Regions from separate parts of the Homo sapiens genome. Here region 1 is linked to region 2. The links come from fine-mapping of genetic effects on gene expression. A gene starts in region 2. The other region holds a variant in brackets. All regions are shown on one strand. Distances are from middle to middle. Region 1 overlaps CCDC57 (coiled-coil domain containing 57). Region 2 holds the start of FASN (fatty acid synthase).

Region 1 (10,566 bases), 50 kb after region 2:
GCTCTTACACACACACAGGCACACACACACACCCCACACGTGCACACACCCCACACGCGCACACACCCCACACGCACACACACGTGTCAGGGAGCACGTCTGACATGCCCCGTAAGATCTCCAGAAGAGATTAGACAGAAATGGAAGAAAGCAGTGTTTGAAAAACAATGACTGAGAATTTTAAAGAATAGAAAAACAACCAGCCAACCAACCTAAAATTTGGTCCTAAAATTTAAAAAACATACAGATTCCTGAGCAGGATTCAGGGAAACAAATCCACACTTAGACACAACAATGGTAAAACAGGAGCACCTAACAGATTGGGAGAAAAGTCTAAAAACAGCTTCCCCAGGCCGGGCGCAGTGGCTCACACCTGTAATCCCAGAACTTCAGGAGGCCAAGGCGGGTGGATTGCTTGAGCTCAGGAGTTCGAGACCAGCCTGGCCAACATGGTGAAACCTGTCTCTACTAAAAATACAAAAAAAAAAAAAAAAAATTAGCTAGGCTGAACCCGGGAGGTGGAGTTTGCACTGGGCCATGATCATGTCACTGCACTCCAGCCTGGGCAACAGACAGCAAGATTCCATCTCAAAAACAAAACAAAACAAAACAAAAAACAGCTTCCCCAAAGGCACTGAGATCAGACTGATGGCTGACCTCTCTGAAGACATAAGAATATTATCTTGAAAAGAAGTTGAGCCGGGCATGATGGCATGCATCTGTAGTCCCAGCTACTTGGGAGGCTAAGGCAGGAAGATTGCTTTAGCCCAAGAAATAGAGACTATAGTGAGCTACGATGGCACCACCATGCCAGCCTGGGTGTCAGAGCGAGACCCCATCTCTTTTAAAAAAAAAAGTAGTAGAAAAATGTCAACATACAGAAAATTCTATTTCCAGCTAAACCATCATTCTAGAAAGTCATCTACAGATACATAGCATGTACTCCCCACAGACTCTTGCTGAAGGAACTGACAAAGCAAAGGGCAGAGATCCCTGAATAAAAGTCCATTTCCCTTTTCTCTTTCCTAGAAAAGATGGGGCTGCCTTGTACCTGAGTCTGAGTATAAAGCCTTGTGTCCGATCAACTGCTCTCCAGGCTCCTGGAAGACCCCACTGTGGTAAACAGGGAACCGAGGTCAAGGAGCAGGCCTGGGAAGAGCTTCAATCAACTGTTTCATAAAATGTGAGCAAAAGTTATTACTTCCAACTCAATATATTGTTATAAGATTTTAAATACGTACGTGTCATTTAACTAATAAATTAAATGTAAATAGATACTTTACTATTTATGCACATATGCCTAATAAAGAGTATTGAGTCAGCTGCCAACTATTGGGAAACAACAAAGCGAGATCCCTAATTTGTTCTTTTTCACTAGATCATTTCCCGATGCATTAAAGACTCAGCAGGAAAATGACATGACGATAAAATACAAGTGGCCCCACAGTAAGCCCCCTACATACACACAAAATTAAAGAAGCACAAATTTAAAACAGGAAATCCTTTTACCTATTTAGATTGGCCCTCCAAATCAATTTTATTTCTTTTCTTTTTTTTTTTCTTTTTTTTTTTTTTGAGACAGAGTCTCGCTCTGTCACCCAGGCTGGAGTGCAGTGGCTTGATCTTGGCTCACAGCAAACTCCACCTCTCGGGTTCGAGATTCTCCTGCCTCAGCCGCCCGAGTAGCTGGGATTACAGGCACGTGCCCCAACACTTGGCTAATTTTTTTTTTTTTGTATTTTTAGTAGAGACGGGGTTTCATCATGTTGGCCAGGCTGGTCTCAAACTCTTGACCTCAGGTGATCAGGCGGTGGCTCACACCTGTAATCCCAGCACTTTGGGAGGCTGAGGTGGGCAGATCACTTGAGGTCATGAGTATGAGACCAGCCTGGCCAACATGGTGAAACCCCGTTTCTACTAAAAATACAAAAATTAGCTGGGCATGGTGGCGGGCGCCTGTAATACCAGCTACTTGGGAGGCTGAGGCAATAGAATCGCTGGAACCCGGGAGGCGGAGGCTGCAGTGAGCCGAGATCGCACCACTGCACTCCAGCCTTGGCAACAGAGATTCTGTCTCAAAAAAAAAAAGTTAGCTATCATAAAGAAGTTTACTAGAAACAACATTTTAAGGAATCCCAGCTTTCTACAGGATCAAGGAAATGCCATGTGCAGCTGATTTCTGGAAGGCGCAGAGGGAGGGTGAGCTCCAGGCACTGCCCACTCTGTGGGCAGAGGGGCCTGCAGGCAGGGTCCCACAGCACCTGCCTCCTGCTTCCCCCTGCAGGCCCCTGAGTGGGGCTGTTCTCACTCCCCGCCCTGGTCTCGGCCGGAACCCTGTAGCAGGCAGGTGAAGCTCCTTATCTCAGAGGGGGCCCACCATGTCACCTGCTGGAGTTGGCTCCACAGTCTGAATGGGGTGTTGGCAGGAACCAGTGTCACCAGAGCACAGGGGACGCCCCGGCACCTCCCCCCACAGCCATCTATATGGGCACCGGCAGCATGAGACAGGCTCTATGCCTGAAAGCAGCCGAGAGCCAGTGAAGTGGCGGTCAGCTTGCTCCCTGCGGGATGCGGCCCCTTCCCAGAGGCGGACAGGTGAGGACATGCACTGAGGCAGCTGCAGGTGACCCCTGGGCCACCGGTGCTGGGGCAGAGTAGCTGTTGTGAAGTGGACTAGAGAAGCATCTAGAAACAGCCACAGGCAGAGCAGGTCCTGCTCAGCCCCCTGGCTGGACGGCTGTCCCACGTTGAATAATGATGATATGTTTGTCACAGCTGGCCATTCTGTACTACTTAATGATTGCAGCCACATCATTTATGAACCGGATAAGTGATCTTAGGAAAAAAATGCAGATAGACCAGTCAGTCTTGCCTAAACCTTTGCAATCAGGACTCATCTTTTTTATTTTTTTAAATGTTTTTAGAGACTGGATCTCCTGTGCTGCCCAGGCTGGAGTGCAGTGATTATTCACAGGCAGGATCATACCCACTGCAGCCCCGACCTCCTGCGCTCAAGCAATCCTCCCACCTCAGTCTCCCAAGTAGCTGGAACTTCAGACACACAACACCATGCCCAGCTAAGAACTCAATGTTTAGGTGGGGAGGACGGCCTTCCCAAAAAGAAACAAATGGGGTATGTTTGGTATAATCAAAGCCAAACCAAAAGTCCCCATTCTTCTCTTCTCACTCTACTTTCTTCTCTAAATTGCCAATAAATCGACAAACTTCCATTGAGTCCTCCCTATGGATGTGTGCATGCATGCACACACACGGTCTAACATACAAATGCATGTGTGCACACAGTCTCACATACAAATGTATGTGCACAGTCTCACACACAAACGTGTGTGCACACAGTCTCACATACAAACGCACATGCACAGTCTTGCACACAAACGCTTGTGCAGTCTCGCAAACAAACGTGTGTGCACACACACAGTCTCACATACAAATGCACGTGCACACACACAGTCTCGTCTCGGGAAGTGCTAGGATTACAGGCGTGAGCCACCACACACAGCCGAGGAAACATCTCTTTAGCCAGATTTGGGCCTGGCGACATAGGAACTGAAGAAGGCAGAAAGTATCTGGCACTCAGCAGGGGCTCCTCTACTGGATGGGTGGATGGATATATGGATGGTAGGTGGATGAGTGACTGGATGATTGGATGGATGGGTGGATGGGTGAGTGAAAGGATGGATAGGTGGGTGGGATAAGTGGTTGGATAAATGGATGGATAGGTGGGTGCATGGGTAGGTGGATGGATGGATGGATGAATGGATAGATGGATGAATGGATGGGTGGATGCAAAGATAGATGAATGGATGGATGAATGGGTGGGTGGGTGGGTGGATGGATGGGCGGATGGATAGATGGATGGGTGGGTTGGTGGATGAGTGAGAGTGGCTAATTGGATACATGGGTGGATAGATGAACAGATGGATGGGTGGGTGAATGGATGGATAGATAAGTGGGATAAGTGGTTGGATGGATAGATGGATAGGTGTATGGACGGATGGACAGGTGAGTGTGTGGGTAGGTGGATGGATAGATGGGTGGGTGGACGGATGGATGGATACATTAATAGATGGATGGGTGGGTGGGTGTACGAATGGATGGATGGATGGGTGGGTGGATGGATAGATGGATGGATGATTGGGCGGGTGGGTGGATGGATGGGTGGATGGATACATGGAAGGGTGGGTGGGTGAATGGATGAATGGGTGGGTGGATGGATGGATGGATAGATAGGTGGGTGGATGGATGGGTGGGTGGATGGTAGATGGATGGATGGATGGGTTGGTGCGTAGATGGATAGATGGATGGGTGGGTGGGTGGGTGAATAGATGAATGGGTGGGTGGATGGGTAGATGGATGGATGGTTGGATGGGTGGGTGAATGGATGAATGGGTGGGTGGATGGATGGATGGATAGATAGGTGGGTGGATGGATGGTAGATGGATGGGTGGGTGGGTGGATGGGTAGATGGATGGATGGTTGGATGGGTGGGTGAATGGATGAATGGGTGGGTGGATGGATGGATGGATAGATAGGTGGGTGGATGGATGGTAGATGGATGGGTGGGTGGGTGGATGGATGGATGGGTGGGTAGATGGGTGGATGGATGGATGGGTGGGTGGGATAAGTGGTTGGATGGTTAGATGGATGGATGGATGGATGGATGGATGGATGGATGGATGGATGAATAGATAGGTGGGTGGATAGATGGGTGCGTGGATGGTAGATGGATGGATGGATGGGTGGGTGGGTAGATGGGTAGATGGATGGATGGATGGATGGTAGATGGATGGATGGGTGGATGGATACATGGATGGGTGGGTGAATGGATAAATGGGTGGGTGGATGGATGGATGGATGGATAGGTGGGTGGATGGATGGGTGGATGGGTGGGTGGGTGAATGGATGAATGGGTGGGTGGATGGATGGATGGATAGGTGGGTGGATGGATGGGTGAGTGGATGGGTAGATGGATGGATGGTTGGGTGGGTGGGTGGGTGGATGGATGGGTGGGTGGATACATGGATGGGTGGGTGGGTGAATGGATGAATGGGTGGGTGGATGGATGGATGGATAGATAGGTGGGTGGATGGATGGGTGGGTGGATGGTAGATGGATAGATGGATGGGTGGGTGAGTAGATGGATAGATGGATGGGTGGGTGGGTGAATAGATGAATGAGTGGGTGGATGGGTAGATGGATGGATGGTTGGGTGGGTGGGCAGACGGATGGGTGGATGGATACATGGATGGGTGGGTGGGTGAATGGGTGGGTGGATGGATGGATGGAAAGATAGGTGGGTGGATAGATGGTAGATGGATGGATGGGTGGGTGGGTGGATGGATGGGTGGGTGGGTAGATGGGTGGATGGACAGATGGATGGGTGGGTGGGATAAGTGGTTGGATGGTTGGATGGATGGATGGATGAACAGATAGGTGGGTGGATGGATGGGTGGGTGGGTGGATGGTAGATGGATGGATGTATGGGTGGGTGGGTAGATGGGTAGATGGATGAATGGATGGGTGGTGGATGGATGGTAGATGGATGGATGGGTGGGTGGACGGATGGTTGGGTGGGTGGATGGATGGATGGGTGGGTGGGTAGATGGATGGATGGGTAGATGGGATAAGTGGTTGCATGGATGGATGGATGGATGGATGGGTGGATGAATAAATAGGTGGGTGGATGGATGGGTGGGTGGATGGCGGATGGATGAGTGGGTGGATGAATGGATGGGTGGGTGGGTAGATGGGTAGATGGATGGATGGATGGA[TG/T]GGGGGGGTGGGTGAATGGATGGATAGATGGATGGGTGGTTGGATAGATGGATGGATAGGTAGGTGGGTGGATGCATGGAGGAACAGATGGATGACTCACTGAAACACTCAGTCATAAAGCCAGTGCCCCTTGCCTTTCTTAGGAAGTCAGCTCCGGTGTCTGTGTCCAAGATGCCCAGCCTCCACCTCAGTCAGGAGACACTGCTGCCTTTACCTGGAGAAGTCTGCGGCCATCTTCGCTGCTCACCACAGAGCCGCACAGAAATGCCGGCTGCTTTGCTAACCTGCGGTGTTGTTCTCACAAATGCTGCCAGCGAAGTGGGTCCCCAGAGCGCCCGCAGCTAAGATGAGGTCCTGCTCTGTGCAGTGGCCTCCGACCAGGCCCCGCTCACAAGAGGGGCTTCTGTGCTCCTTCGGGCCTTCCTGAGAAGGCTGCGTCCAGAGCCCTCCCACTGACCCCAGGCGCACACCCAGAACCTGACCCGCACCCAGAACCAGGCGCACACCCAGAACCTGGCCCGCACCCAGAACCAGGCGCACACCCGGAACCTGACCCACACCCAGAACCAGGCGCACACCCAGAACCTGGCGCACACCCGGAACCAGGAGCACACCCAGAACCTGGCGCACACCCAGAACCAGGCACACACCCAGAACAAGGCCCACACCCAGAACCTGGCGCACATCCAGAACCAGGTGCACACTCAGAACCTGACCCGCACCCAGAACCAGGCGCACACCCAGAACCAGGCGCACACCCAGAACCTGGCACACACCCAGAATGTGACCCCCACCCAGAACCAGGCACACACTCAGAACCTGGTGCACACCCAGAACCTGACCCACACCCAGAACCAGGCGCACACCCAGAACCAGGCGCACACCCAGAACCTGACCCACACCCAGAACCAGGTGCACACCCAGAACCTGACCCGCACCTAGAACCAGGCGCACACCCAGAACCAGGCGCACACCCAGAACCAGGCGCACACTCAGAACCTGACCCGCACCCAGAACCAGGCGCACACCCAGAACCTGGTGCACACCCAGAACCAGGTGCACACTCAGAACCTGACCCGCACCCAGAACCAGGCGCACACCCAGAACCTGGTGCACACCCAGAACCAGGCGCACACCCAGAACCAGGCGCACACCCAGAACCTGACCCGCACCTAGAACCAGGCACACACCCAGAACCAGGCGCACACCCAGAACCTGGCACACACCCAGAACCTGACCCGCACCCAGAACCAGGCGCACACTCAGAACCTGGTGCACATCCAGAACCTGACCCACACCCAGAACCAGGCGCACACTCAGAACCTGACCCGCACCCAGAACCAAGCGCACACCCAGAACCTGGTGCACACCCAGAACCAGGAGCACACCCAGAACCAGGCGCACACCCAGAACCTGACCCGCACCTAGAACCAGGCACACACTCAGAACCAGGCGCACACCTAGAACCTGGCACACACCCAGAACCTGACCCGCACCCAGAACCAGGCGCACACTCAGAACCTGGTGCACACCCAGAACCTGACCCACACCCAGAACCAGGCGCACACTCAGAACCTGACCCGCACCCAGAACCAGGCGCACACCCAGAACCTGGTGCACACCCAGAACCTGACCCACACCCAGAACCTGACCCGCACCCAGAACCAGGCGCACACCCAGAACCAGGCGCACACCCAGAACCTGACCTGCACCTAGAACCAGGCACACACCCAGAACCAGGCACACACCCAGAACCTGGCACACACCCAGAACCTGGCGCACACCCAGAACCTGACCCGCACCCAGAACCAGGCGCACACTCAGAACCTGGTGCACACCCAGAACCTGACCCACACCCAGAACCAGGCGCACACCCAGAACCTGACCCGCACCTAGAACCAGGCGCACACCCAGAACCAGGCGCACACCCAGAACCAGGCGCACATCCAGAACCTGACCCACACCCAGAACCTGGCACACACCCAGAACCTGGCACACACCCAGAACCTGACCCGCACCCAGAACCAGGCGCATACCCAGAACCTGACCCGCACCCAGAACCAGATGCACACCCAGAACCAGGTGCACACCCAGAACCTGGCACACACCCAGAACCTGGCACACACCCAGAACCTGACCCACACCCAGAACCTGGCGCACCCCCAGAATCTGACCCACATCCAGAACCTGGTGCACCCCCAGAATCTGACCCACATCCAGAACCTGGCGCACACCCAGAACCAGGTGCACACCCAGAACCTGACCCACACTCAGGCCATGGCCTCCACTTCCCGGACTCACTTTCGGGTCGGCCCAGCTCTGCACGGAGCCTGTTCCCCATCTCGATGAGCTGCTCTTTCTCCAGGCGGAGGCTGATGATTTTTCTGGCTGCCTCCTTCAGCTTTCTCTGGAGTCGGTGCATAGATAAGGTCTGGGGGGCACGTGCCACTGACCGGAGGTGCAGGAAAAGCTCCCCCTGGTCCTCGGCCTCCATAGGCCCTCTCTTGGTGAGGCCCTGTAACAAAACTCACAGGCAGACACCCCTGTGAGGCTGCCCTCATGGGAGGACGCCAGGGGTGCCCACCCAAGGAGCCTCTTCACCTGCTCTTCCAGGGTGGGCACTGCTGGCTGTCACTGGGTGACATCCTTCCAAAAGAAAGACAAAAAGAGTCGCTGCTCCCAGTGCTTCAGTGGGTTCCTTCTCTTCCACAAATAGAATAAAGGCCCACAGATCTCCCAGGCCAGGGTGGCCCCCAGATCTCCCAGGCCCTCACAGCCCTCCGCCTCCTCCCCGCCATCCCTGCCTTCTGGTCATCTATGCCTTTGTGTCTTTCAAGTGAACACAAGGAGAATCTGAGGACACCCAACCAGCACAGCAGCTCCCCAGGGAGAGCAGAGAGAAGGCTGTGGCCTCCAGCAGTGCCCAGGACCCAGGAAGGCGGCCCAGGGAGAGCAGAGAGAAGGCTGTGGCCTCTAGCAGTGCCCAGGACCCAGGAGGACAGCTCCCGCCAGCGTGGCTTGGCCCTCCTCCACTCCTTGGGGTCCCTCCTTTCTCTACCTGCCAGCTGGACACCCCACAACCACCCTGCAGGCCGGCTGTGGCTTCCCTCCTGAAGCAGGTGCAGGGGGAGCACAAAGGCAGTGGAGAGGGAGGAGGCCGACACAGGGGCAGGAGCTGGCTGGGCTCCCCCTTAGCACCCCAAGCCTGGGTCAACCCTAGATCTGAGCCCCTGGGAAGCACTGTGTTGTCCTCACTCAGCCCAACCTGGACTTGCAGCCCACATCATTCCAGTGCTACAGAGTGCAATCCCAACACAAAGGGATGCCTGGACCAAAAATGGGGGCACAGGAAAAAGCAGTAGTGTCCAGGCCCTGGCAAGACGGGAGCCGACGACCTACTTCTCCCGTGCCACTCCTGGCCCCTGTAAGGAGCCAGGCTGCACCTGGCCCTGGCCACATGAGCTCCGAGTTCCTGGAACAGGCCAGCACACCCTGTCCCCGCCAGCTTCCTGGTGTGCCTTTCCAGGGCTGGCAGGTGCTGCTGCCTTCCAGGTGCTGCTGTTCTTTGGATGGCCTGGGGTGCAGCCACTGTATGCAGTGCCTCCGGGCATGTGCCGCAGGTTCATGTGGGACGCTCGGGGGCCGCGGGGGATGACACATCGAAGGGGAGAGATGTCTGCTTTCCTCTTGGACAGAGAAAGTTCTATGGTGCCGCAGGCCCCAGCTGAGGACGGGTGCAGGGCAGCCCCCATGAAGGCTCGCCACAGGCCTGAGCCCGAGTCCAGACTCGCTTCCTCCAGTAAGCGGGCCTCATGCCTGCTCCGTGAGCACCCTTGGCAAGTGTGGTGCAGAGGCTCACTCACCACCCTGGGAGAATAGACAGGAATGGGCTCTTGGGTGTGGGAGAGGCCAAGGCAGAGGGAGAGGAAGGGAGGCCTGTGCTGGTAAAACAGATTGCAGATGGCCTGGGGCTGGGGGAGAGGGGCCAGGCAGGTGAGACTCGCAAGTCCGGTTCTAAAACCCTGGATCCTCTACAGGAACACACTGGGTTATTTTGTTATTTTAACTGAAGAAAGAACAATCCCGAAAACAGATTTTGCAAACCTCAAAACACTTAGAGATTTAAGAGAAAATTCCGTCTTCAAAAGCAGTCCCCTCTCCCTGCAAAGTTACACCAGGCCCTGCGGCTGGTGCCAGGCTTGAGGGGCACTGAGGGGCCTTCTTGCTGTTGACCCCACAGGCAAAGGAAGGAGGGCATGGATCACAGGGCCCATGTCCTAGTCACGTGATTCTGCACACAGTGACCTGGGGGGCAGGGAGTGAACGATTCTACTTCTCTCGGATTCAGTTTCTGGTAAAATGTTATTTGGTAAAAGTTTATTTTGATGATTCTCTAAAATCTTTCCACAAAATAAGATTTCTACAGCCTGAGACATATTCAGGAATGTCTTCACCACTGTGTGCTCCAAGGGCTGCCCACCCCCAGCAGGGCAGCAGCAGCTGTCCACCCATCTGCCCCCACGCCTAGGACTGCCCCAGCACCCCACAGGTGAGGAGGAGATGTCTCCAAGTATCTGGACGATTCGAAGAAAATTCGAAGGAAACTTTGGTCTGCTGAAATGTCTTCACGTCCTGAGGACATGTATGAGTGAGTGACACAGGGAAGTCCTTCTCAGAGGCTGAGGCCTGGGCCTGGTACAGTGGGTTCCATCAGGCTGGGCCGGCGCTCACCGCCCCACACAGCCACTCCAACGCCTCTCGGCAGAGCCAGCA
Region 2 (10,566 bases):
GCCCCCCACGATGGCGGCAGGGCACTGCCCGCTGTGGATGGCCTGGTAGGCGTTCTGCAGGGCCATCAGGCTGGAGGAGCAGGCTGTGTCCAGTGCGATGCTGGGCCCTGCAAGGAAGGGTGCTGCGGCTCAGGTGGGGCTGTGAGCACACGAGACCCCTGAGCACACCTCCTGCCACCAGGCTGGACACACACTGCACGGAGTGAGCCCACGCCACGTGGTTTCTGCTCAGCATGTGGGGACCTGAAGGCCACCCACCTCCGCAGGAGGCTGGGCAGGACCCACCTCTGAAGTCGAAGAAGAAGGAGAGCCGGTTGGCCATCATCGCTCGCTGGCAGCCCACCATGCTGTAGCCCACGAGTGTCTCGGGGTCTCGGCTCAGGGCCTCCGAGGTCTCAGAGCCGCTCACGCCCACCCAGACGCCAGTGTGTGTTCCTCGGAGTGAATCTGGGTTGATGCCTGCCACAAACAGTGGTCAAGGTGCCACGGCCGGGCCCCACAGCGCAGCCAGCCCACCCACCCACCCGGCTCTGGGGCGAAGGTCCCATCTTGGCCTCACTGGCTTGGGGTGAGGGGGGGTCCATCCCAGTGGGACCCTGGAAGGGGCCTAAGGAGGGTGAGGTGTCCTGCAGAGGGGCCAGAACAGAGCCTGTGGCCAGCAGCCAGCCCAGGTGAGGCCTGGAACAGGAACCAGGTCACAGAGGGAACGAGGCGGAGGGGGCAGGCGGGCCCAGGGGAGGGCACCAGGCACGGCCAGAGTGGCTCCAGGAAGGACAGAGGGCAGCATTGTCCCCAGGCGACGCCTTTGGCCCCTGGTGTCACCGGCAGCTCTGATGAGCCCGTCGGCCAGTGGCCTCTCCAGCGCCAAGGGCAGCCTGCACCAGAACAGGCCGTGATAAGGAACCGAGGAGACAAAGGCCAAGTGTCCAGGCTCGGGAAGGAGAGAGGGACACCGGTCACCCCCGGGGAGCATAACCTTAGTCTTGGGGTGGGGTCTGGCAGCAGGAAGGGCGCAGGAGAAGGGCTTCCACCTCTCGGCCAGCAGGGCCCCTCCTCGCCCCTGGTGGGCTGGCTCTGCCCTAGGGTGGGTGGGTGTGTGAACCGCTCACACCCAAGGGCAGCCCAGGGCTCAGCCTCCCCCTCAGGAGGTCCTTCTCCGCCCGGGGAGGGAGCACCTGGATCTTAAGAAATGGCATGGCTGGGCGTGGTGGCTCATGCCTGTAATCCCAGCACTTTGGGAAGCTGAGATGGATGGATCACGAGGTCAAGAGATCGAGACCATCCTGGCAAACATGGTGAAACCCCATCTCTACTAAAAATACAAAAATTAGCCGGGCGTGGTGGTGGGCGCCTGTAGTCCCGGCCACTCAGGAGACTGAGGCAGGAGAATGGTGTGAACCCAGGAGGCAGAGCTTGCAGTGAGCTGAGATCGCGCCACTGCACTCCAACCTGGTGACAGAGTGAGACTCCGTCTTAAAAATAAATAAATAAATAAAAATAAAAATAAAAAAACGGCGTGGCGCTTGTCCGAGGTCAAATGCCAGTCAGAGCGAGGGCCAGGCTGGCGGGAGAGGGTTGAAATGCCTGGGGTGGGGGGACGTGGGCAAGGGTAGTGGGGAGGGTGGGAGGGGAGAGACAGCAGGGCCGGTGCTGTCCGCTGCTTGGCTGGTGGGGGTGGGGGCCTGGAGGGCCCCTCAAGAACCTCCTGCTTTGCCTCTCGTCACTCCAGCCCCGGCCCCGGCCCCAGCACCAGCCAGACATCAGAAGCGAGGAGACTGGTACGCTCAGGTCAGGGCACACCCGCGACACCTCTGGGGTGCAGTTGGGAAACTGCGGCCTACCCCGTGGCCCACACCTCCCTGAGCCCGTTGGCCAGGCCAGGGGCACAGCCGGGGAGGGTAGGTGGTGCCAGCACCTGGTTCTACCAGAACCAAGAAGAGAAAACACTGCCTATTCCACGTGAGCAGCAGGAGCCCTCGGCGCAGCAGTCGCGAATGCCCGACCCACCTCCGTCCACGATGGCTTCATAGGTGACTTCCAGCAGCAGCCGCAGCTGAGGGTCCATCGTGTGTGCCTGCTTGGGGTGGACTCCGAAGAAGGAGGCATCAAACCTAGACAGGTCCTTCAGCTTGCCGGACCGCCGGGGCAGGCCGTAGAGCCCTGTGGGACAGGCGGGTGTTTAAATCTCTGACGGAAGCTGCCCAGAGGTGGGGGCCCTGTGGGGTGCTGCAGGCCCCTGGAGGGGCCATGGTGGAACTGAGGACTCTCTGCTATGCCTGGGAGGCCCAAACAATGGAGCAGGCTCCCCAGGAGGGGAAGACCATGGCCCCAAAGCGGGGACTGGTACGACCAGATCTGCTGCACAAGCCCCAAGCCCCAAGCCCCAATCCTGAGATGGGCCGCAGAGCAGAGAGCTCGGCGGGAGTGAGGCTGGGGGACCATCTGCCGGGCTGGTGCCTCGGCTCTACCATGCTGACTCACAGCTTGCCTGTCAGGTAGAGCTGCTCTGTGGAAGAGCCTACTGGGTGTGGGGCAGTTGCTCCAGCCTCCCGGAGCACATCTGGTATGCAACCTCCCAGCTCAGGACAGACACAGGCAGGGGCAGCCTGGCCGGAAGGGCTCTGGCCCCCCGCACCCCCTGCATGGGTGAGAGACCCCAGCCCGTCACCCATCCTCTGAGCTTGGCTCCTCCGTAACAAGCAGATGGGCCCTGCCTGGGCCAGCCCTCGGCCTTGCAGCCATTGGGGGAGCCTCCTGTTGGCCTTGCAGCCGTTGAGGGAACCTCCTGGCAGGCTGGGCGCATTTTCTAGGCCACTCTGGTGCAATGTCCAGGAAGGAGGCTGCAGCTAGGCCTCGCCCATGGGTGACCAGTGGCTCTGCAGCTGGGACCGGCCTCAGGCCAGTGCCTGGGTGGTGAGGACACAGCACAGCAGGGAGGCTGCTGTGAGGACAAAGGTGGAGATGGAGCTTCACACCCCAGGCACGGGGAGCCCCGCAGCCACATACCCGCCTTCCAGCGACGGTCATCGTCCGTGACCATGTCCACACCGCCGATGAGGTTGTCCCAGAACTCCTGCAAGTTCTCCGACTCTGGCAGCTTCCCGGACATGCCGGCAATCACCACCTCCTCCATGGCTGCTCTGCAGGGCGGGCGGTGTGAGTGCCCCACACATCCCGGCCACGACACCCCCGTCAACAGCCTCGGCACCCAGAACAGGTGGACACCCATGGGGCCAAGCACCACCCTGAGGGTCCGTGCGGGCCCTGGCTCCTGCGGCTCCCTTCCTCATGTGGCCAGTTCCTGGGCCCTGACCCCGCTCTCGCTGGGAGGGGCTGCGTGCTCTGGGAACAGGCCCGCCTCTGGGCCCTGACCCATTCAGTTCAGGGTATTGGCTGGGGTACCCCACTGGAGCCCTGCAGCCCTGGCCTCCCCAGCAGTTACTGGTTTCTGCGCCTGTGTCGGCTTCCACTCGCCTGAGTCTCAGCCTTCCAAGGCTCCTGGAGCTTGTCCCAGGCCATCCCTAGGGCACCAGGGGGCTCACAGTGAGGAGCAGGCAGGGTCACCTGAGATGGGGACAAGGCCTCAGGTGGCCAGCCTGCTAAGGGCCATCAAAGAAATGGAGAGGCAGGGTCCCAAAGCCGGGGCATGGAGGTGGCTGGGAGCCCTAGAGGGGGGTACTCAGCACCCATGCTCACCCGTGTTGGGGTGGGGGCCCGCTGTCCAGGCCAGCCCAAGAGCCACCAGGGCTGGGGAGGGACGAAATGGGGATAGCCTATGCTCTGGGGGAAAGGTGGCCCCTGCCCCACTGTGGACCGACCCAGCCAGTCCAACCCCTCCAGCAGGGTCCAACCTGGAGAACCACTCCTGGCCAGGACACGCAGGTGTTGCCTGGCACCCTTCACCTGCGCGGGTGAACCCACAGACGCTTGCCTCCCCATACCAACCCACACACCACAGGAGGCCCTCCCTGGAGCCCAGGTCCCTAAGACCCGGAACGGGTGCCCAGGCCGCCGGCTCCTCCTCCAGCATGAGGGCTGGTGCGGCCCTGGGGGGAGGGGGCGGAGGCCAGCGCTGGTCTGGCCACTTGCACGAGGCCCCAGGGCCTGATACGCGCGCCGCCCCTCGGCAGTGCGGCCTCCCTTGGGCCGTCCCGGCAGGGAGGCGGCCGCCTTCCCACCCGCTGCGATTCACAGAGGCTTGGCTGCCCCGGGCCAGCTCCAGGCCCGCACGCTGGGTCCTCGCCGCTTGCTATTCACGCGGGGTCGACGGCCAGGCAGGGGGTGGGAACACCGCGGCGCGCCCGGCCTCCCTTCGCCCCGGGCGGGGGCTGCTCGGGACCCCTGCGCTTCGGCCGGGCTGCGCCACGTGATGGGGAGGCCGGTCCCGGCGCGGCCCCTGCGCCCCCCCGTTCCTCCCTCGCGGCGTCCCCTTCGGGCTGGGCCTCGGCTCCGGGGCGGCTCCGGGAGGAGGATGCGGCGGCGCCTTTGTGGGCGCGGGGAGGCCGAGCCGGGGGCTCCTCCAGGCCCTTCAGGGTCCGCGGCCTCCCCCACGGGAAGCGAAGGCGGCTGTTGGTGGCTTTCCCCGGCGTCCTTCCCCCGCCATCCGCCCACCTACTCCGCGGGGCCCCGGGCGCCTCCGAAGGGGCACGAACACCGAGACCCGGACAGGCCGCCCAGGCGACCCCTGGATACGGGGCCGGGCCACGCGCGCCCCGAGAGCGGAGGATGAGGAGCCGGGCCACCCCGGGAACCCCGGGCCCAGCCCCGACCACGACCCGCGCCCCGGCCCCAGCGCCGGCTGCTCGTACCTGGTGAGGGCGCGGGCGGCGGTGCGGGCGGCGGAGAGCGAGGCTGGAGCGCGGCGGAGCGGGAGGCTGAAGCGCGGCGGAGAGGGAGGCCGGGGCCGCTGCCGTCTCTCTGGCTCCCTCTAGGCCGGCGCCGACGCTATTTAAACCGCGGCCATCCCCGGGCGGCCACGCCACATGGGCTGACAGCTTGGCTGCGCCGCCCAGGCCAATGAGCGTCGGGGCTGCGCCCCGGGACCCGGCGCGCCGCCGCCGGTGGGGTGATGCTCGTGCGCGCCGCCGCCCGAGCCGGGACCCTGCGCGGGAACGCGCCTGGGGGGGTGGGGCTGGGACTGAGGAGCGCCGGGGGCGGGGCGGGCGGGAAACCACCGCCCCCCGACTTCCGCCTCCCGCCCCGCGGGCCCCGACGCGCACGCGGCTGCGACCGAGCCCGCGGCGCGCCTCCCGAGCCATCCCCGACCCCCGTGTCCGCCGGGGCCACGTGTGCGGGATGGGAATGCTTGGGCCACACTGGGGACTACCCCGTGGCCACACCGGGGGTCCAGCCGGCTGCGGCGGGGCGCTCGGACCCACAGGCGCGCGGAAGGACGGACGGACCCGCGTGCCCGCACTTCGGCCGCCGACTCCACGCCGCCGTCGCTGCCCGCGCGGAGCTGGCTGAGGGCGCGGCGTTGCGCGGCGCGGCGGCAGCAGCAACCAATCGGGCGCCAGGGGTGTTCGCACCGGCCCAATGGCGGCGCGCGGGTGGGCGTTGCTAGGCGATAGGGTGATGGGCGGGCGGCGGGGCGGTCCCGGATGCCTCGCGGGCCGCGGCGCAAGTGCGGGCGTTGACCCCGGCCGCGGGCGCCCCGGCCGGGGTTACTGCCGGTCATCGCAGCGCATCCCCGGTTTTCCTCGCGGGTGCGGCGGGGAACCCAGACCCGAGACGGACGTCCACCCACCCGACGGCCCCTCCTTAGCAGCTTCCCGGGGACCCGGACGAGGCGCAGGGCCGAACGGGCGAGCGCACTCCAGGCCGCTGGAGCTCGGCGGAGGGGAGGGGCGCGGCCACGTGGCGAGCGGAGTCGGCCGGGACACCCACCTGGTGTGGTGCGGACAAAGGGAGCCGCTGCCCCACTTCCCAGGGCGGAGGCTGCGAGTTTTCCAGGCGCGCACCCACGGGCGGGGGCTCAGCCCGGCCCTCGCGCGCTCCCTCCCTCCCGAGTGATTCCTCGAATCGTGGCCCCTTGGGCGGCCTGAGCCCTGAAGCGCGGCCTCCCTTTTCTGACCGCTTCGCGCTTGCGGGGCCAGGCACCCCATGGGGGGCAAGCGGGCCTTGTGAGGCCACAGGTGTCTCTGGCTGCGTGTCCTACTTTGAGGGCTCAGCAAGCCCGGGCCGCTGAAGGGGAACCGGAGACTGGGGCCCCCGGCCCCTCTGCAGGTGTCCCGCTTCCTTCCTCTCCTGAGAGCAGGCCTGAGGGTCAGGCGGCCACTCCGCGTCTTTTCCCTTCTGGGGCTGTGGTTGACGCACGGTGGGACCGAGGGTCAAGGAAGGACAAGGGAAGACAGGGCCGGGGCTGGCCCCGCACTGCTGTCCCCACTGCGGGGGTTCTTCTGATTCAGGGTGAGGCCCTGTGTCAGCCTCAGGCGTGCGGGCACGCAGCTCCGGCTCTCCATGCTCCAAACCTCCCAGGTGGCCCTGGCTGCCAGTGCTGGTGATCAGCGGCCAGCGGGGCCCTGCTCTCTGCAGCCTGTCGAGGGCTGGGCCAGCTACAGGGGAGCCCTGGCTGGCTCCCAAGGAGGTTGGAGACTCGTCCAGCACCCTGAGGGCTTCCACAGAAAGTGAGCGGCAGCGGCCGGGCTTGGTGGCTCACGCCTGTAATCCCAGCACTTTGGGAGGCCAAGGCGGGCAAATCACGAGGTCAAGAGTTGTAGACAAGCCTGGGAAACAGGGAAACTCCGTCTCTACTAAAAATACAAACATTAGCCGGGTGTGGTGGCGCGTGCCTCTAGTCCCAGCTACTCGGGAGGCTGAGGCTGGAGAATAGCTTGAACCCAGGAGGCAGAGGTTGCAGTGAGCCGAGATTGCACCACTGCATTCCAGCCTGGGCGACAGAGCAAGACTCTGTCTCAAAAAAAGAAACAAACAAAAAAACCTCACAGGGCCGTGACTCGATTCCAGGGGACATGTGTGGGAGACCACAGAGCACTGAGAGCCTCCAGCCCATCCCCAACTCCGTCTGGATTCCCATGGAGCAAGTGACGGAGGCTAACCTCAAACGCCCCTGCCCTGGGGCCACAGCCTTTGTCTGTGTGGTGTGGTCTCTGCTTGTCACGGTTATCCGGCCCGCACACCTGTGAGCTAGGCCAGCCGATGGCACTGTCTATATTTTACACTGGGGGTGCAAACCAAAGCTGCAAAGGTCCCACGATTTGCCAAGGTGGCACGGCAGGTTAGGGCTGGGAGCAGCGTTCTCCCATCGTGTTCCCAGAGAAGCTGTCTGCCCAGTTCAGAAAGGTGGCCCGAGGGTATATGGCAAGGCCCGTCAATTCACCCAGCTGGGTACCGGCTGCCTCCACCCCTGCACTCTGCTGTGGGCAGAGTGTGACCAGGCCTGGGGGGTGCGGGGGACAGAGACTGGGCTCCTGAGGAGTGGGGGTGGGATATGAACCCCCCCCAGTCACCATCCTGCCGGTCGCAGAGCACTGCGTCCGTGTGATGAACCCCCACCCCAGTCACCGTCCTGTCGGTTGCAGAGCACTGCGTCCGTGTGATGAACCACCCCCAGTCACCCTCCTGCCGGTCGCAGAGCATTGTGTTCGTGTGGAGGACACGCGAGGACTCTTGGAAGTGCTTTTTGGCGGGGTAGTGCAGTGTGTTCCGGGCGGACGGGCGTCAGTTTACGTGTGCGTTTCTCATCCTTGCAGGTACCTGGCCCCGGGCACTCAGGTGGCAGGGACATTTTGCTGTTATCCTTCGTGGGGGTGGACGTGGAAGGCCCAGCAGTGACCGCTGTCCCCGGTTGGCCCCCACCCTGCCAGCACCTGACATGCACACCCCAACCTGCATGAGGCCCAGGTGCCCACCTGGCTTCCAGGGGTCACCTTGGCCCGGTTCACTGGGATCCAAGGCTCTCACTCCTTCTGGGAGGGCCCCTCCCATGGTACTCTCAGGAGACGCCTGCTTTGTGGGTGGGCTTTCTGATCTGCCCCCTACCTGCTACCAGGCTCTGAGGAAGGCCACACTGTCCCCAACACCACTGGTGTGCAGATGGCTGTGGGTGGTGACACGGGCAGGCCAGGCTCTGGCACAGGCACTTGATACTGCATTTCCCAAGTAGGACAGATAAACAACGCTAAGGCCAAGCAGACGCCCCAGGGAGGAACCTGGTTTTAATGGGCCCTGTGCTCAGGGAGGCCTTCAGTCAGCAGGGTCGCCTCAGCAGCATTTGGGAGCCTGCCCTGCAGCTCCCTGCCTCCACCCTGCACGCTGTGCCCACACCCCCCCACAACACGTAGGTGAAAGCACAGGCACCATGCGGAGGCCCCGAGCACCCCTTAGTGGGGCGGGGTGGGGGGAGGAAGTCAGTCCATAATGTTGTAGTTACGGATCTTGGGGGGCCTCTGGCAGCCTTTAGCTTTTGCAGGATGAGACCGGGAGGCTCCTGTGGTCTTGGCCTTTGCCTGGGCTGCTGTCTTCATCCCTGGGGTGGCAATGCCTGCCTGCATCTTGACGGGCCTCCTGTCGGCTGCTGGAGGAGCTGGGAGCTCTGTCAGGTAAAGAGGAAAAAACAGCATGCATCAGGATGGCAGGGGGAGCAGGAGGCTGTGCTCACAGGCACTGCACAGGTGCAGCACTTCCGTGTTCCCGGCCAGCGGGGGCCCTGTGACCCTTGGCCTGGCTTTCCTCCAGGAGTCCGTGAAGGCCAAAGGATCCTGGAGTGACCAGAGAGCTGTGGCCTCGCCTTGCTCAGTGGGTCCTGCTTGGCAGGGACTGGGCCTGCCCCTCCACTGGGCACCTGGACATGTGGCTCTGAAAATGGTCCTGTTGTGACCATTTCGTAATGGGTCCCAGGAGGGGGCAGGGGTGCTGTGTGGTAATGGGTCCCAGGAGGGGGCAGGGGTGCTGGGGTAAATGGTTGACTCAAAGCTCCTCCCCCCAGGCTGCCCCGGGTGTCCCTACCATCTGAGACACATTGCCTGCCCCCGCCTCCCCGATGGGCCAGCAGTGCCAGGCTTTTGAGGCCAAAGGAAAGGCCGTGCTGGTGGGCACCACGTGGCCAGGCACAGGCCAAGGGCCCAGGAGTGCGCTACACACAGAGGCTGGGGCCTAAATGCCAGATAGCCCTTCCTAAACATCGGCTAAAACCATCTTCGCAGAGGGGTGTTGTAGGTGATCTTCTTTATCTGGCCAGTTTTTCTCTATTTTTCATTTTTTCAATTAAGAATGTGGGGGTTTTTTTTGGTAAAACAACAGCAAAATGTTACTAAAAATCCATGCAAGGGCTGGGCTTGGTGGCTCACGTCTGTAATCCCAGCACTTTGGGAGGCCGAGGTGGGTGGATCACCTCATGTCAGGAGTTCAAGACTAGCCTGGCCAACAATGGTGAAACGCCGTCTCTACTAAAAATACAAAAAATTAGCCGGGCACGGTGGCGGGCACCTGTAATCCCAGCTACTTAGGAGGCTGAGGCAGCGGAGTCGCTTGAACCCGGGAGGCAGAGGTTGCAGTGAGCCGAGATTGCGCCACTGCACTCCAGCCTGGGCGGACAAGGGCAAACTCTATCTCAAAAAAAAAAAAAACAAAAAAAACCCCACAGTAAGATGTGAGCTCAGCGTCCACTGCGTGGCCACACTGTGGCTGGGGTGAGGTCTAGAGGACTCCAGCACGTGGCTGAATGTGGCCCAGTGGGCAGTCTGGACAGGCTGACCCAGGCAGGTCAGCGGGCGGCCAACGCCTCCTGCTGGAGCCCAGCCTGTGTGGTCTGCGTGCAGCCTGGGTGACTGGGAAGCGTCTGTGCTTTGGGGACACCGGCAATGACGCACTCTCAGCTGGGCTGCGCAGTGCCCATGGGGGCAGCCACACACTCCCAGCCCTGGCCCTGGGCCCCTCTTCCCATCTCAGCTTCTTCCACTCCGATCCACTCTTGGGGTCTCAAGACACCCGGAACCAGTCTTCCTTTTCCTGCAGCCCCGTTGGGGTCACACAGTCCCTGGCCCCCTGCTGGGGTCCTGGGGGGCCCTGGACGCTGCCTGCTCCCTTTGTTTCCAACCCCCAGAGGAATTCCTCCTCTTCACACAAAGGCTACCACCCTTTATCTCTCAACAATAAGCCTGCCTGACCTCCTGGTCCCGGCCAACGCCCCCATCCCCACTCCCTCCCCCCACCCCCCACACTGGCTGGCAGAGGGTGGGGTATCCCGTGGAAAGGGCTTCCTGCGGGGAAGCTGGTCCTCTGACCAGGCCCTAGTGCTCCACTGTGACCCTGAGGCATCTCCTCAAACCCAGAGGCCTTGGTTGTCCCTCTGTAATGCTCAGGGATTCTGGGGGCTTTGCCCGGCTTGATCCTCCTCAGACAAAGCCTGTGGGGATTTTCAGAAAAAGTGAGCTGAGGGAGGGGGGTGAAGGGCCTGCCCCTTTGCCTGGGAGGCCTGAGCTGGCCCTGCTGGGAGGACCCTGGCTGTATCCCGGGGCGAAGCAGGGAGGTGTGAGTGGGTCACAGTCCCCGGGGCAGGGAGGGGCAGGGAGGGGCAGGGAGGGTGAGCTGGCCCCCTCCCCAGGG

The links. PIP is the estimated chance that this variant, and not a neighbour inherited with it, causes the effect. A credible set is the group of variants that fine-mapping cannot tell apart.
Region 1: its variant is the best candidate, but not a certain one, in a credible set for the expression of FASN in whole blood (INTERVAL, PIP 0.73).

What each region holds. Positions count from the first base shown.
Region 1 is chr17:82,143,466-82,154,031 of GRCh38, forward strand. CCDC57 (coiled-coil domain containing 57) reads right to left here. Exons shown (of 19, transcript NM_001394669.1): 15 at 8,095-8,308. Among named protein-coding and RNA genes, the nearest start is that of FASN, 51 kb to the left of the region's middle. RefSeq lists an enhancer at 6,344-6,403. The variant TG/T (reference allele first, on the strand shown) is at 5,793.
Region 2 is chr17:82,093,313-82,103,878 of GRCh38, forward strand. It overlaps FASN (fatty acid synthase), which reads right to left and starts at 4,924. Exons shown (of 43, transcript NM_004104.5): 1 at 4,809-4,924; 2 at 3,007-3,140; 3 at 2,008-2,160; 4 at 286-459; 5 at 1-107. The coding sequence starts at 3,133. CCDC57 (coiled-coil domain containing 57) reads right to left here. Exons shown (of 19, transcript NM_001394669.1): 19 at 8,158-8,554. The coding sequence ends at 8,370. RefSeq lists enhancers at 3,233-4,148, 10,551-10,566 and silencers at 4,017-4,066, 4,127-4,336, 4,357-4,546, 4,617-6,096.